2 linked regions of the Homo sapiens genome follow. The main gene of each other region encodes a partner of the protein of the gene in region 2 in a complex. Each region holds a gene or a part of one and is shown on either strand. Other genes may lie near its edges.

What was found. The genes of interacting proteins can lie anywhere in the genome.
Region 1: the proteins of NELFB (region 2) and NELFCD are in contact, whole or in part, in a crystal structure (PDB 8JJ6), measured with the Homo sapiens proteins. Residues at the interface, in NP_056271.3 of Homo sapiens: Met49, Leu53, Leu56, Val58, Ala59, Asn60, Gly61, Leu64, Lys65, Leu68, Thr69, Leu75, Ile78, Glu79, Phe81, Gln82, Glu84, Asn85, Gly86, Val87, Leu88, Leu89, Ser91, Leu92, Ser94, Ala95, Leu96, Pro97, Phe98, Leu99; in XP_047296144.1 of Homo sapiens: Arg63, Ile66, Met67, Glu68, Pro69, Ile71, Phe72, Leu75, Ile89, Gln90, Leu92, Ser93, Tyr96, Thr97, Ala98, Val99, Ala100, Gln101, Thr102, Val103, Asn104, Leu105, Leu106, Trp109, Leu110, Gln112, Thr113, Gly114, Val115, Gln121.

Annotation. Positions count from the first base shown.
Region 1 is NC_000020.11:58,977,009-58,984,413, reverse strand, and holds the start of NELFCD (negative elongation factor C/D), read right to left. Parts: upstream 3,105-7,405; coding exon 3,045-3,104; intron 1-3,044. UniProt on the Homo sapiens protein: Essential component of the NELF complex, a complex that negatively regulates the elongation of transcription by RNA polymerase II.
Region 2 is NC_000009.12:137,258,168-137,265,625, reverse strand, and holds part of NELFB (negative elongation factor B), read right to left. Parts: intron 2,590-7,458; coding exon 2,404-2,589; intron 1,382-2,403; coding exon 1,269-1,381; intron 1-1,268. UniProt on the Homo sapiens protein: Essential component of the NELF complex, a complex that negatively regulates the elongation of transcription by RNA polymerase II.

The DNA of each region.
Region 1 (7,405 bases), on a different chromosome or scaffold from region 2:
GTAGCAACATTCCCCTGAAGTCTCAGTCTTATTCCTTCCTTTCAATCATCTTTCACACCGTGGCCACAGTGATCTTTGTAAGCCACAAAACTGACGTCTCTCTCCTGCTTAAAGATTCCCATCTCCTTCAGGAAAAAACGCCCCAGCTCTAGCAAGAGCGTGCCCTTCCCACTTCCCCTGTCCGTTCTGACCTCTCACCACTCCCCATTTGCAATCTGTAGCAGGACTCATCTATTTGCATGTCTGCAGCTCTTAGTTTCCACCATCCAGACTGAACATCACGGTGGCCTCCTTACACATCTTCCTACCTCCCACTATGTAACATGGCATCAGGCGAACAGAATTTGGGTCACCAACTATCTTTTAAAATCCAGTTCTTGCCACCCTCCTAACACCTTTCCTAACTTTCTGTACCTCTTCCAAGCAGAGTCACAGAATAAACATGAAATGAACGTCTGGTCCACCCCCCTCATCCATGAGAGCCCACTGGTGTCAGTGGGCCAAATTAGGATCATGATTAAAATTCCCCAAACATGAGACTCCCCAATCTCCCATCAGTGGGGTCTAGGTCTGACTGCACAAACTTGGGCAAATAACTCACGTGCTTGGTCTATAAAGTGAAGGTACTGATTAGATGGCCCTTATATGCCCCAGTTCTAACACTTTATGACTCAAAGCCTCAAGGTGAGGCCGGGCACGGTAGCTCACACCTGTAATCTCAGCACTTTGAGAGGCGGAGGCGGGCAGATTACTTGAGGCCAGGAGTTCGAGACCAGCCTGGCCAACATGGTGAAACCACATCTCTACTAAAAATACAAAAATTAGCCGGGTGTGGTGGCACCGGCCTGTAATTCCAGCTACTTGGAGAATCACTTGAACCCAGGAGGTGGAGGTTGCAGTGAGCCAAGATGGCACCACTGCACTCCAGCCTGGGTGACAGAGTGAGACTCCGTCTCAAAGAAAAAAAAAAAAAAAAAAGGCCGGGTGCGGTGGCTCACGCCTGTAATCCTAGCATTTTGGGAGGCCGGGGCAGGCGGATCACCTGAGGTCAGGAGTTCAAGACTAGCCTGGCCAACGTGGTGAAACACTGTCTCTACTAAAATACAAAAATTAGCCGGACATGATGGCGGATGCCTGTAATCCCAGCTACTCAGGAGGCTGAGACGGGAGAATTGCTTGAACCCAGGAGATGGCAGTTGCAGCGAGCTGAGATCAAGCCACTGCACTCCAGCCTGAGCAGCTAAGCGAGACTCTGTCTCAAAAAAAAAAAAAAAGAAAAAAAGGCTCAAGGTGATATACTAGATGCCCCAAACACCAACCTACCACTAAGCTAATTCACACCTTCTCATCTGGACCACTTTGGTAGTCAGCAATTTGACGAAGTGGCAACGGAGGCAAAGGATGTGGGTTTGGGTCCCCTCTCCTTCCTTTATTAGTTTCATGACCTTGGGCAGGTCAGTAAGTCTTTTCGTCTCATTTTCTACACTTACCAGATAAGTAGGGTAACACCCAACTCAAAATCCTGTGTGTGGAAGGGGATAACGCATGACACACATGGCCCAAGCTCTCAGTTAGCTAAGTCTGACTCTATCCACTCCACCCTAAGCCTCCAACACTGTGAAATGATCCAACATGCAAATCTACTCGTGTCACTCCCTGCCCCAAACTCCTGAACAAGCCATACCATTCAGCAGCTCTCCAAGGATCTTCAGAACCTGCTCCCTACTGACCTCCTGCCACTGCTTCCACCAGGCAGCTAACATCACAGGGCTTCTTTCAGTTCCAGAAACACATCGCCCGCCTTGGCATTTTAGACCATGGCTCCGAAGCCGCCATCACACCACCACCCATGTTTATCAACGTAAGCCCCACTTCATCCTTTATTCCCTTATAATACCACTTCAAAATGCACCAGACATCCCCAATCTTGATTGTTGTTAAAAATGCAAGTTCCTGGGCCACGAGCAGTGGCTCACGCCTGTAATCCCAGTACTTTGGGAGGCAGAGGTGGGTGGATCACCTGAGGTCAAGAGTTTGAGACCAGCCTGGCCAACAAGGTGAAACCCCCTCTCTACTCAAAATTTTAAAAATTAGCTGGGCATGGTGGTGGGTGCCTGTAATCCCAGCTATTCGGGAGGCTGAGGCAGGAGAATCGCTTGAATCCGAGAGGCAGACGTTGCAGTGAGCCGCGATGGCGCCATTACACTCCAGCCTGGGCAACAAGAGCGAAACTCCACCACAAAAAAAAAAAAAAAAAAAAAAAAAAAAAAAAATGCAAGTTCCCAGGCTCCCGTCCAGACCAACTGTTGGGCCGTCTCCAGGGGAGGGACGTGAGAAGCTACATTTCAATCATGCGCCTCAGTTGGGTCTTTAGAGTAAGGTGGGGACACACTGTCCAGACTAGAGCTACCTGCCCTGGCTCTGCAGTCCCTGTCCTCAGGGTGGAACAGTGATCCCTCCTGGGCTTCCACCCCAAACCCTGGAAGGTCAAGGCCCGAAAATCCTTTCCATCAGTTTGCCCAAAAACAGATGAAATCAGCCCAAGGTGCTGAAGAGTACAGTTTATAAAACAGTAAAGCACATGTAGGAATGCCCTAAGTTCTACTTTTTCCTCATGATGCTGCTGTGAAGTTTTTCCACTTTATTTTTGTTTAAAAGTCTGTGAGCTCCGGACCCAACCCTCCACCTTAGCGTTGGTGTCCCGCCCGCCGCGGGGGTCGCAGGGCCGGCGCCGGGCCTGGCCGGAGCGAGGGGGTACTGGGGGCCTCGGGCCGCCCCGCGCCAGAGCCTCCGGCGCCTCACCCCCACCCCAAGGTCCTGCAGGCGAGGAGGCGGGGACCCCGGCGGCCGCGCCGCGGGACCCCGGGCGGGCGGGGGCGGGGCGGGCTGTGCTTGAACCACACGGTGACCGCGCGGGCCGTGCGCGCGCACACCCCCCGCACGCCCGCAGCCTCGCGCCGCGCGGCCTCTCCGGGAGTGGGGCCGGCCCGCCGGCGGCGGAGACGAACGATTCTCTCTAGGGTGCGCCCAGTGCCCCGCCTCACCTGGCCGCCGTCAGCCTCGTCGCCCCACTCGGCCGCGCTCCCGTAGTAGTCCTCGTCCATGATGGCGCCCGGCACGGCCCCCGCCATGCCCTCCCGCGAGCGAGCGCGGCGCATGCGCGAGGCGGGGACGGGCGGGCGGGCGCACGCGCGGCCGCGCGCCTCGGCCCGGGCGGGAGGCGGGGCCTGGAAGAAGGGGCGGGGCCTGGAGGAAGGGCAGGGCCGCGGGCTCGGCACTGGGAACAAAGGGGACCGGCGGAAGGAACGCCCCCAGTCGATCCCGGAGCGATGCCCGGGTGGACCAGGGGCTTAGCTCCGGAGAGAGGTTTCCCACTGGATTCGTGCACAGCCCCTCCCCTGCGGCGCCGGCTCTGCGAGCCCCAGTTTCCTCATCTGGCAGCTGGAAACAAATCCTTCCGGAAGTGTCCAGGACCCACGAAAGTGTTTTAATTTCTTTTAGTTTTGGTAAAAAGTACTAAACGCGACCGGGCGTGGGGGCTCACGCCTGTAATCCCAGCACTTTGGGAGACCGAGGCTGACGGATCACTTGAGGTCAGGAGTTCGAGGCCAGTCTGGCCAACATGGTGAAACCCCGTCTCTGCTCAAAATACAAAAATTAGCCGGGCGTGGTGGCATGCGCCTGTAATCCCAGGTACTCGGGTGACTGAGGCAGGAGAATCGCTTGAACCCGGGAGGCGGAGGTTGCAGTGAGCCAAGATCGCACCATTGCACTCCAGCCTGAGCGACAGAGCGAGACCCTATCTCAAATAAATAAATACATACATAAAAAGGGCAGGGCACGGTGGCTCACGCCTGTAATCCCAACACTTTGGGAGGCCGAGGCGGGCGGATCACCTGAGGTCAGGAGTTCGAGACCAGCCTGGTCAACATGGTAAAACCCCTTCTCTACTAATAACACAAAAATTAGCTGGGCATGGTGGCGGGCGCCTGTAGTCTCAGCTACTCAAGAGGCTGAGTCACGAGAACCGCTTGAACCCAGGAGGTGGAGGTTGCAGTGAGCCAAGATCACACCACCGCACTCCAGCCTAGGCAACAGAGTGAAACTGTGTCAAAAAAAAAAAAAAAAAGAAAAAGAAAAAGAAAGAAAGAAGAAAGAAAGAAAAGAAAAGAAAAAAGAAAAGAGAAGAAAAAGTACTGAATGCAGTGGAAAGTAGCATTTTTAATTTTTTATAAAGTGGAAGATAGGCCCACAAAGCAAAAGTGCCCAGAGCTGACAAAAATCTCTGGAGAAAGGACCTCTCTGGTCGTTGCCAAAGGGAGCAGCTGACGCTGTTGTAAAGCCCGCAGCTCGATTCCCAGCGTGAAGTAGGGGGTGAGAATATGACAGCCTCCTGATGATCACGGAAAGGTTTTTGTTTGGTTGTTGTGTTTTTGTTTTGTTTTAATTTTAGATTCGGTGCGTGTGCAGGTTTGTTACATTGGTATATTGCGTGATGCTTCTAATCCTTTCGGCAACTTTTTCAGCCTTTACCCCCCTCCACACCTTCTGCCTTTTGGAATACCCCATGTCTGTTGTTCCCATCTTTGTGTCCAAATCACAGAAAATTTTAAACAGGGAGATTAACGCCATAAAATCTGGATGCTTTGAAAGGTAACGCCCGTGGCTGAGCGCCGCGGCTCACACCTGTAATCCCAGCACTTTGGGAGGCCAAGGTGGGAGGATTGCTTGAGGCAAGAGTTTGAGACCAACCTGGGCAACATAGCGAGACACCGCCCCCCCCCTTCCCCCGCCCCCAGCCAGGTATGGTGATGCACGCCTGTAGTCCTAGCTGCTCGGGAGGCTGAGGCAGGAGGATTGCTTCAGCCCAGGAGTTTGAGGTTACAGTTTGCTATGGTCGTGCCATTGCATTTCAGCCTGTGTGACAAAGTGAGACCCTGTCTATAAAGAAAAAAAAGAAAGGTAATGCCCATGTCAGTAAGGAAAGAGTATTAGAGAAAAGAGCTCCAGAAGATTGATAATAGTGACTACTTTTGGAGAACTTATCAGGGAATATGTCTTCATTTATTCAACAAATGTTTATTGAGTGTTCCCTAAGTGCCCAGCACTGCGCTGCTCCCTGGAGCTCGGTGAACAAGTTGGACCTGATCCTTGTCCGGGTAGAGCCTACATTCTACTGAAGGAGCTGAATGGGGGGAGGGGGTGGGGGGAACAAATAAGATAAAGACAGAAGGTGATCAGTGCTAGTATTCTGTGATAATAGAATCTTCTTGGGGAGATCAGAGATGGCTGCTGAGCAGCTTACATTTGAACTGAGTCATGTCATGAAAGGGGCAAGCTAGCTAAGACCCAGGCAAGAGCATTTCCAGAGAGCAGAACTGCCAGGGCAAAGGCCAGGCATGCGTACTTGGAACAGAAAGGCCACTGAGAGCGGCACCTGGCAGGCCAAGGAGAAATCTAGATGAGGTGGGCAAGGCAGGGAGGGCCAGATCTTGGGAGGGAGTTAGGTCTGTATTAACTGAGGGCCATCTCTAAGGATTGAATGTAATGAGGTATGCCAAGCACTGAGCAGAGAGCTTGCACATGGTAGGTGCTCAGCAAGTATGCATCATTATGAGGAAGATGAAACGTTTGGATTTTTTTTTTCTTGCTCTGAGCGGGTGAAAGGACATATCTGAATTTTCAAAGGCATTTCTCCTAGCTGAGGGGGCCTTACAGAAGGAAGTGAGAAGGTGAGAATGTAAATTAAGAAGCTTCCGTGAGCATTAATGGAGGGGGTTGCTGAGAAGGAGCTGTGGCTAACTGCTGTGAAGTTGGGGTCAAGTCCAGAGGATACAACAGCCTTGGGGGTGGGAGATGGGGGCCAGGAACAGGGGCAGGGAAGATGCTGCTGTGACCCCCAGCTTGTGTGCCTGGGGATGGCCCATGGCTGAGACAGGGAACCCAGGAGGAGGGCAGGTTTCTCCATGGGATGATAATGAGTTCATTGGGTTGTGCTGAGTTAGAGGTGCCAACAGAACACCCATGCGGAGATGTCCTGCAGGTGGTTGGAGGTGGAAGTCTGCAGCTCCGATTCAAAGGATCCAGCTCCAGCTTCTATTCACAAGATTAAAGTGTATTAAGTTAATGAGTGCCCCTGCTGTTGGCTTGTTTCAGGGTTCATTTTCACTTGCTTTCTCAAAATGTTGGAAAGAATAGATGGCTGTTAAACTCCTCCTACCTCTCCTCTTAGATTTTTTAAAAAATAGTGCCAGAATTGAAAGCGGACCAATTAATGTATGTATAACTAATTGTGCCTACGGAATTGGGGATTATTCAGCTCACTTCTCCTTCAACCAACAGGTTGGTTAATCCATTTATTGTTAAATGGATTAACAACCCGTAATGAAACCATTACATTCAGCCTATAAGTCACAATGATTTAAAAGTAATTGGGTCAGCCGGGCGCAGTGGCTCAGGCCCGTAATCCCAGCACTTTGGGAGGCCGAGGCGGGTGGATCACGAGGTCAGGAGATCGAGACCATCCTGGCTAACACGGTGAAACCCCGTCTCTACTAAAAATACAAAAAAATTAGCCGGGCATGGTGGCAGGCGCCTGTAGTCCCAGCTACTCAGGAGGCTGAGGCAGGAGAATAGTGTGAACCTGGGAGGTGGAGCTTGCAGTGAGCCGAGATCATGCCACTGCACTCCAGCCTGGGTGACAGAGCGAAACTCTGTCTCAAAAAAAAAAAAAAAAAAAAAAGTAGTTGGGTCTATAGGTCTTGCCTCCTGAGATATTGTGGATCTGTTGTTTTTTCCAAAGCCTTGTCTAGATTGTCCAGATTAGCTTGCATTGCTTAAATACTCCTAAAGTCATTTAAGTTCTAAAGTCATTTTCCTGTTTAAGAAGAATTCTGGGCCGGGTGCGGTGGCTCATACCTATAATCCCAGCACTTTGGGAGGCCAACACAGGCAGATCACTTGAGGTCAGGAGTTTGAGACCAGCCTGGCCAACATGGTGAAACCCCGTCTCTTCTAAAAATACAAAAATTAGCCAGGTGTGGTGGCGGGTGCCTGTAGTCCCAGCTACTTGGGAGGCTGAGGCAGGAGAATCGCTTGAACTTGGGAGGCAGAGGTTGCAGTGAAGTGAGATCACACCACTGTACTCCAGCCTGGGTGACAGAGCAAGACTCTGTCCCCTGACCCCCACCAAAAAAAAAGAAGAAAAAGAAGAATTCTGGTGGAGAATTTTTATGAAAATTAGAAGTTGGTTTCACTTAATCCATTGAGGAAATACTTACTGAGTGCCTACTAGGTGTCAGGTGCTGGGATATAGCTGAATCAGAGACACAATTCATCTGGTGCTAATGGCAAAAAAGGAGAAAAGAGAAGCTATCTCTAACAATTTTTTTTAAAAAATGCAGCG
Region 2 (7,458 bases):
ACCAGGTCAGGAGACTGAGACCAGCCTGGCTAACAAAGTGAAACCCTGTCTCTACCAAAAATACAAAAAATTAGCCGGGCGTGGTGGTGGTCGCCTGTGGTCCCAGCTACTCGGGAGGCTGAGGCAGGAGAATCACTTGAACCCGGGAGGCAGAGCTTGCAGTGAGCCAGGATCGCGTCACTGCACTCCAGCCTGGGCAAGAGAGCGAGACTCTGTCTCAAAAAAAAAAAAAAAAAAAGCTTAAGGTTTGCAATTTGTCCTTAACCTATTCAAAGATTTTTCAAATTAAAAAGTTAAAAAAACAAACAAAAAAAAGGCTGGGTGTGGTGGCTCACGCCTGTCATCCCAGCACTTTGGGATGCTGAGGCCGGTGGATTGTTTGTTTGAGACTAGCCCGGGCGAGGTGGTGAAATCCCATCTCTACTAAAGATAACAAAAATCGGCCAGGCGCACTGGTGTGTGCCTGTAATCCCAGCACTTTGGGAGGCGGAGACAGCAGGATCAATGCCCAGGAGGTTGAGGGAGACTGTACCACTGCACTAAAGCCTGGGTGACAGAGACCCTGTCTCAGAAAAAAAAAAAAAAAAAAAAAAAGGAAGAAAAAAAGTGGCAAAGGCAGGGCCAGGCAGCACTGTGTCTATACACCAGCCAGAGGATGCTGGAAAGCAAATGCCAATGGATGCCCCTCAGCTCAGAGGCTGACCCCACGCCACTGCAGACACCAGACCCCAGCCCCTGGGCCTGGCTCCAGAATGCAGAGTTGAGGAGGGAGACTTTGCTACCCACACACATCCCGACAACCATGTCCCTAAGCTGTGGGCCAGCAGTGCCCGGCATAGCTCTATTGAAACATCCAGGAGGCCAGGCACGGTGGCGCATGCCTGTAATCCCAGCACTTTGGAAGGCTGAGGCGGGTGGATCACCTGAGGTCAGGAGTTCAAGACAAGCCTGGCCAACATGGTGAAACCCTGTCTCTACTAAAAAATACAAAAATTACCTGAGCGCAGTGGCGCGTGCCTGTAATCCCAGCTACTTGGGAGGCTGAGGCAGGAGAATGGCTTAAGCCTAGGAGGCGGAGGTTGCAGTGAGCAGAGATTGCACCACTGCACTCCATCCTGGGCTACAGAACGAGACTCTGTCTCGAAAAAAACAAAAGAAAAAGCAATATCCGGGAATAAACGCCTGCTACCCACGGCAAAACACAGCAAGCGCAGACCGGATGCACGCAGGGCCCTGAGGGGCAGAGGCCTCGTGGAGCCGACCCTCACCCCAGCACCTGCTCCTGGCCCTTCTTGACGCCATCGAGAAACCCCTGCAGCTCCCGCGCCCTCTTGCTGTCCACGAACCGCTCTCGGATGCAGGCGTCCAGGCACCAGGTGAACTGCAAGGAGGAAGCACGGTCGGGACCAGCCCAAACCTCCCAGGATGACCAGAGACCCAGGCCCCAAACACAGCTCCAGGCCCTGGCCTCTTGTTCAATCATAGCTGCTGCGGGGGGCGGCAGCAGGCACCAGTCATCCTGACGGTGCAGTGTTCCCCACACCTCCCGGCCAAAGCAGCAGGGTCAGGACAGTGGTGGAGAAAGTGATGATGTTTCTTTCTAAAAACGGACTCCTTCATGGCACCCTGAGTGTGGGGGTGGCCACTGCAGCACTCCAAGCAATGGAAGCCTCGGAGGGTGACTCCCAAGTCCCGGAAAGATGGTCTCAGGGCTGGAGGGTCCGTATGAAGGGAAACCCCGTTCCTAGAGCACTTGGTACCTGGCCAACAAGCAGCACCCAGGGTTCTGGGGAAGGGGAGGGCCACAGGCCAGGTGGAAAGATGGGAGGAAGCTGGGGCAATGGTCAAGGTCCAGCCCGTAGGTCATACAGCCCTCGGGAACACAGAAAGGGCTGGACGGGGCAAGGGAGTCCCCGGGAACGGCCAGGTCTCTGGCTCAGATGCAGGGGACTAGCCTCCTTCCCCCATCAGGGTCTGGAGAGAAGCCAAAGGGCCAGCACACAGGACAGAAAGACCAGAGCCCAGGAAACAGGCATGGGAGAGAAGGGCGCCCAGGTGGTCCCGGGCCAAGCCAAACCCACGGAGAGGAGAGGAGCCAGGAGGGCCAGGGGGAAGGAGGGAGGGCAATGCTACCTTCAGGAGGGGCAGAGGGGGAAGGAGAGAGGGCCGGGGAGTTGGGGGGAAGGAGGGAGGGAGGGCAGCGCTACCTTCAGGAGGGCGGAGGGGGAGGAGGGAGGGCCGGGGAGCGGGGGAGAAGGGAGAAGGAGGGAGGGAGGGAGGGCAGCGCTACCTTCAGGAGGGCAGTGGGGGAAGGAGGGAGGGCCGGGGAGTGGGAGGGAAGGAGGGAGGGAGGGCAGCACTACCTTCAGGAGGGTAGGGGGGAAGGAGGGAGGGCAGTGCTACCTTGTGGCACGGGTCCACGGTGCAGATTTCACCCACGTCCAGGTCGTGCAGGGACATGAGCAGCTCAGCCCGCAGCGTGCAGTAGTGCACATTCCGCGTGCGCAGGAAGAGCGTGCGCAGAAACTGCAGCACCATGTCGTACAGCTTCACGTTCTTCCCCACCATCCGCGTCAGCCGCTGCACCACCTGCAGCAAGAGGCACTGTCAGGCCCCCAGACCGTCCTGGGCTCCGCCAGACACAGGGACGTCACGCCCGGCGACAGCGCGGCCCTCTCTCTGGACATCTGTCCTTCCTACTTTTTGGCAGAAAACATTCCCTCCTCTCATTAAATATTGGCCCCCAGTCTGATGGTAGCAGGTTCTGTTATTTTTATTTTTTTTATTACTTTTTTTGAGACAAGGCCTTGCTCTGTTGCCCAGGCTCGAGTGCACTGCTGCAACTGTGGCTCACTGCAGCCTTGACCTCCTGGCTCAAGTGATCCTCCTGCCTCAGCCTCCCAAGTAGCTGGGACTACAATTGCATGCCACGACACCCAACTGTGGGCAGCAAGCCACCCAGGTGCCAAGGCAAGAGACCAAGGGCACGAGCTGTTCCAGTATAACAAAATATGCAAGAATAGTTATATTAGATATAGATCATAGATATGATTATATTTGAATATTAGTCATTAGCTTGTAGCAATTACTCTTTATTCCAATATTATAACAATCCTCGCTCTACAATCATAATCTAGGAAAAACCAGGCCATACAGAGATAGGAGCTGAGGGGACATAGTGAGGTGTGACCAGAAGACAAGAGTGCGAGCCTTCTGTTATGCCTGGACAGGGCCACCAGAGGGCTCCTTGGTCTAGCGGTGACGCCAGCATCTGGGAAGACGCCCGTTGCCAGGCGGACCAGGGTCTAGCGGTAGCGAAAAATGTGAAGGAACAACACCCGCTACTTAGCAGACAGGGAAAGGGAGTCTCCCTTTCCCCGGGGGAGTTTAGAGAAAACTCTGCTCCTCCACCTCTTGTGGAGGGCCTGACATCAGTCAGACCTGCCCGCAGTTATCCAGAGGCCTAACCGTCTCCCTGTGATGCTGTGCTTCAGTGGTCACGCTCCTTGTCCGCCTTCATGTTCCATCCTGTACACCTGGCTCTGCCTTCTAGATAGCAGTAGTCAATTAGTGAAAGTACTAAAAGTCTCTGATACGCAGAAATAACGGCGTAAGCTGTTTCTCTCTCTCCTCTCTCTCTCTCTCTGCCTAGGCTGCCAGGCAGGGAAGGGCCCCCTGTCAAGCGGACACGTGAACCACGTGACCTTACCTATCATTGGAGATGGCTCACACTCTTTACCCTGCCTCTTTGTCTTGTATCCAATAAATATCAGCGCAGCCTGACATTCGGGGCCACTACCAGTCTCCGCGTCTTGGTGGTAATGGTCCCCCGGGCCCAGCTGTCTTTTCATTTCTTTGCCTTGTGTCTTTACTTCTACAATCTCTCATCTCCGCACACGGGGAGAAAAACCCATCAACCCTGTGGGGCTGGTCCCTACACCCAATCAATTTTTTTTTTTTTTTTTTTTGAGACGGAGTCTTGCGCTGTCACCCAGGCTGGAGTGCAATGGCAAGATCTTGGTTCACTGCAACCTCCACCTCCCGGATTCAAGCTATTCTCCTGTCTCAGCTTCCCAAGTAGTTGGGATTACAGGCGCCGGCTGCCATGACTGGCTAATTTTTTGTATTGTAGTAGAGACGGGGTTTCACCATGTTGCCCGGGCTGGTCTTGAACTTCTGAGCTCAGGTGATCCACCCACCTCGGCCTCCCAAAGTGCTAGGATTGCAGGCATGAGCCACACACCTGACCCAGTTTTTTTTTTTTTTTACTTTTTTTTTTTTTTTTTGAAACCGAGTCGTGCTCTGTTACCCAGGCTGGAGTGCAGTGGCGTGATCTCAGCTCACTGCAAGCTCCACCTCCCAGGTTCACACCATTCTCCTGCCTCGGCCTCCCGAGCAGCTGGGACTACAGGCACCCACCACCACGCCCAGCTAATTTTTTGTATTTTTAGTAGATGCGGTTTCACCATGTTAGCCAGGATGGTCTCGATCTCCTGACCTCATGATCCACCCGCCTCGGCCTCCCAAAGTGCTGGGATTACAGGCGTGAGTCACTGCGCCCAGCTTTTTTTTTTGCGACTGAGTCTCACTCTGTCGCCTAGTACAGTGGCGCAATCTTGGCTAACTGCAACCTCCACCTCCCGGGTTCAAGTGATTCTCCTGCCTCAGCCTCCTGAGTAGCTGGGACTACAGGCGCACACCACCAGGTCTGGTTAATTTTTGTATTTTTAGTAGAGATGGGTTTTTACCATGTTGGTCAGGCTGGTCTCGAACTCCTGACCTCGTGATCCACCCACCTCTGCCTCCCAAAGTGCTGGGATTACAGGCGTGAGCCACCGCACCCGGCCTAATTTAGCTTTTTAAAAGAGAATCGGGCTGGGCACGGTGGCTCACACCTGTAATTGCAGCAAATTGGGAGCCCAAGGTGGGTGGACTACCTGAGGCCAGGAGTTCGAGAACAGCCTGGCCAACATGGTGAAACCCCATCTCTACTAAAAATACAAAAATTAGTCGGGCGTGGTGGTGGGTGCCTGTAATCCCAGCTACTCGGGAGGTTGAGGCAGGAGAATCACTTGAACCTGGGAGACTGAGGTTGCAGTGAGCTGAGATCACACCACTGCACTCCAGCCTGGGCAACAGAAGGACACTACGTCTCAAAAAAAAAAAAATAAAACAAACTAAAATAAAATAAAACAAAATATAAAATTAAAATAAAATAAATAAAAAAAATTTTAAAAAATAAATTTTAAAAATTAAAAAAAATAATAAAATAAAATAGCCGGTCTCAGTGGCTCACGCCCGTAATCCCAGCACTTTGGGAGGCCGAGGCGGGTGGATCATGAGGTCAGGAGATCGAGACCATCCTGGCTAACATGGTGAAACCCCATCTCTACTAAAAATACAAAAAACATAGCTGGGCGTGGTGGTGGGCGCCTGTAGTCCCAGCCACTCGGGAGGCTGAGGCAGGAGAACGGAGTGAACCCGGGAGGCGGAGCTTGCAGTGAGCCGAGATTGCACCACTGCACTCCAGCCTGGGCAACAGAGCAAGATTCTGTCTCAAAAATAAAATAAAATAAAATAAATAAAAATAAAAATAGGCCAGGCACGGTGGCTCACGCCCATAATCCCAACACTTTGGGAGGCTGAGGCAGGTGGATCACAAGGTCAGGAGATTGAGACCATCCTGGCTAACACTGTGAAACCCCGTCTCTACTAAAAAAAAAAATACAAAAAATTAGCCGGGCATGGTGGCAGGCGCCTGTAGTCCCAGCTACTTGGGAGGCTGAGGCAGGAGAATGGAGTGAACCCGGGAGGCGGAGCTTGCAGTGAGCCAAGATCGTGCCACTGCACTCCAGCCTGGGTGACAGAGCAAGACTCTGTCTCCAAAAAAATAAATAAATAAATAATAAAAAAATAAAAAATAAATTTTAAAAAGTAGTAAAATAAAACAAGATAAAAATATATAAAATAAAATAAAATAAAAATAAAAGAGAATCAACCTAGGACTAAGCCGACCAAGCCGACTGATTTCCCTTACAGACAGAAATCAGTATAGGCAGCACCAAGTCACCAGAAGAGACAGGCGATAGGAGAAAGGCCTGGGAAATGCAGGGCACCCCACAGTTAGCAGAGGGGTCCAAGGGCTCTGTCTGACAGCAATGGAACAAGAAAAAGGCCCATGGAGGACCTAACTGGGAATAAACAAACAGGGAAGGGAGGACAGAGGTGGCACTGCCACCCCCAACAAGCCTGCTGCTGCCCACGCACATGGTCAGGAACCACGGCCCGAAGGGAACCCAGAGCCACACTAACTGCTCAGCGTTTGAAGTGCAGTAGTTCAGATGGGCTCTAAGCATGAAAGACTCACCAGGTTTCAAATCTTAGTGATCCTCCCGCAAAAAGCATTATAGCTCAATATTTTTTTTTTCCTTTTGAGACAGGATCTCTCACTCTGTCGCCCAGGTTGGAGTGCAGTGGCTCAATCATACCTCACTGCAGCCTCAATATCCGAGGCCTAAGCAATCCTCCTGCTTCAGCCTCCTGAGTAGTTGAGACAACAGGTACGCACCACCATGCTTAGCTTAATTTTTTTTTCTTGTAGAGACAAGGTCTCCCTTTGGTCTTTAACTACTAAGCTCAAGCGATCCTCCCACCTCCGCCTCCCAAAGTACTAGGAGTACAGGCGTGAGCCACCGTACCCAGCCCAATCTTTCACATGAATTACATGCTGAAAGATAATATTTTGGATATACTGGACCAAAGAAAACATTAATGAAGTTGATCTCATTTTTTTTTCTTAATGTGGATGCTGAAAAATCTTAACTTATAGTTCGCTTTTTCCACTGAACAGTGCTAGTTTAAAGTTGGTTAGGGCCGGGCGCAGTGGCTCACACTTGTAATCCCAGCACTTTGGGAGGCCAAGGTGGGCGGATTACCTGAGGTCAGGAGTTCAAGACCAGCCTGGTCAACATGGTGAAACCCTGTCTGTACTAAACAAAAAAATAAAAAAATTAGCCAGGCATGGTGGGGCGCGCCTGTAGTCTCAGCTACTCGAGAGGCCGAGGCAGGAGAATTGCTTGAACTCAGGAGGCAGAGGTTACAGTGAGCCGAGATTGAGGCCCTGCACTCCAGTCTGGGTGACAGAGCAAGACTCTGTCTCAAAAAAAAAAAAAAAAATTGGCTAATTAAAAAATCTCACAACCAGTTGTGGTCGCTCACACCTATAATCCCAGCACTTCAGGAGGCTGAGGTGTGCAGACAGATTACTTGAGCCCAGGAGTTCGAGACCAGCCTGGGCAACACAGCGAAACACCAACTCTGCAAAAAGTATACAAATTAGCCAGGCATGGTGTCACACACCGGTGGTCCCAGCTGCTTAGGAGACTGAGGTAGGAGGATTGCTTGAGTCCAGGAGGTCGAGGCTGCAGTGAGCCACGATCACACCACTGTACTCCAACC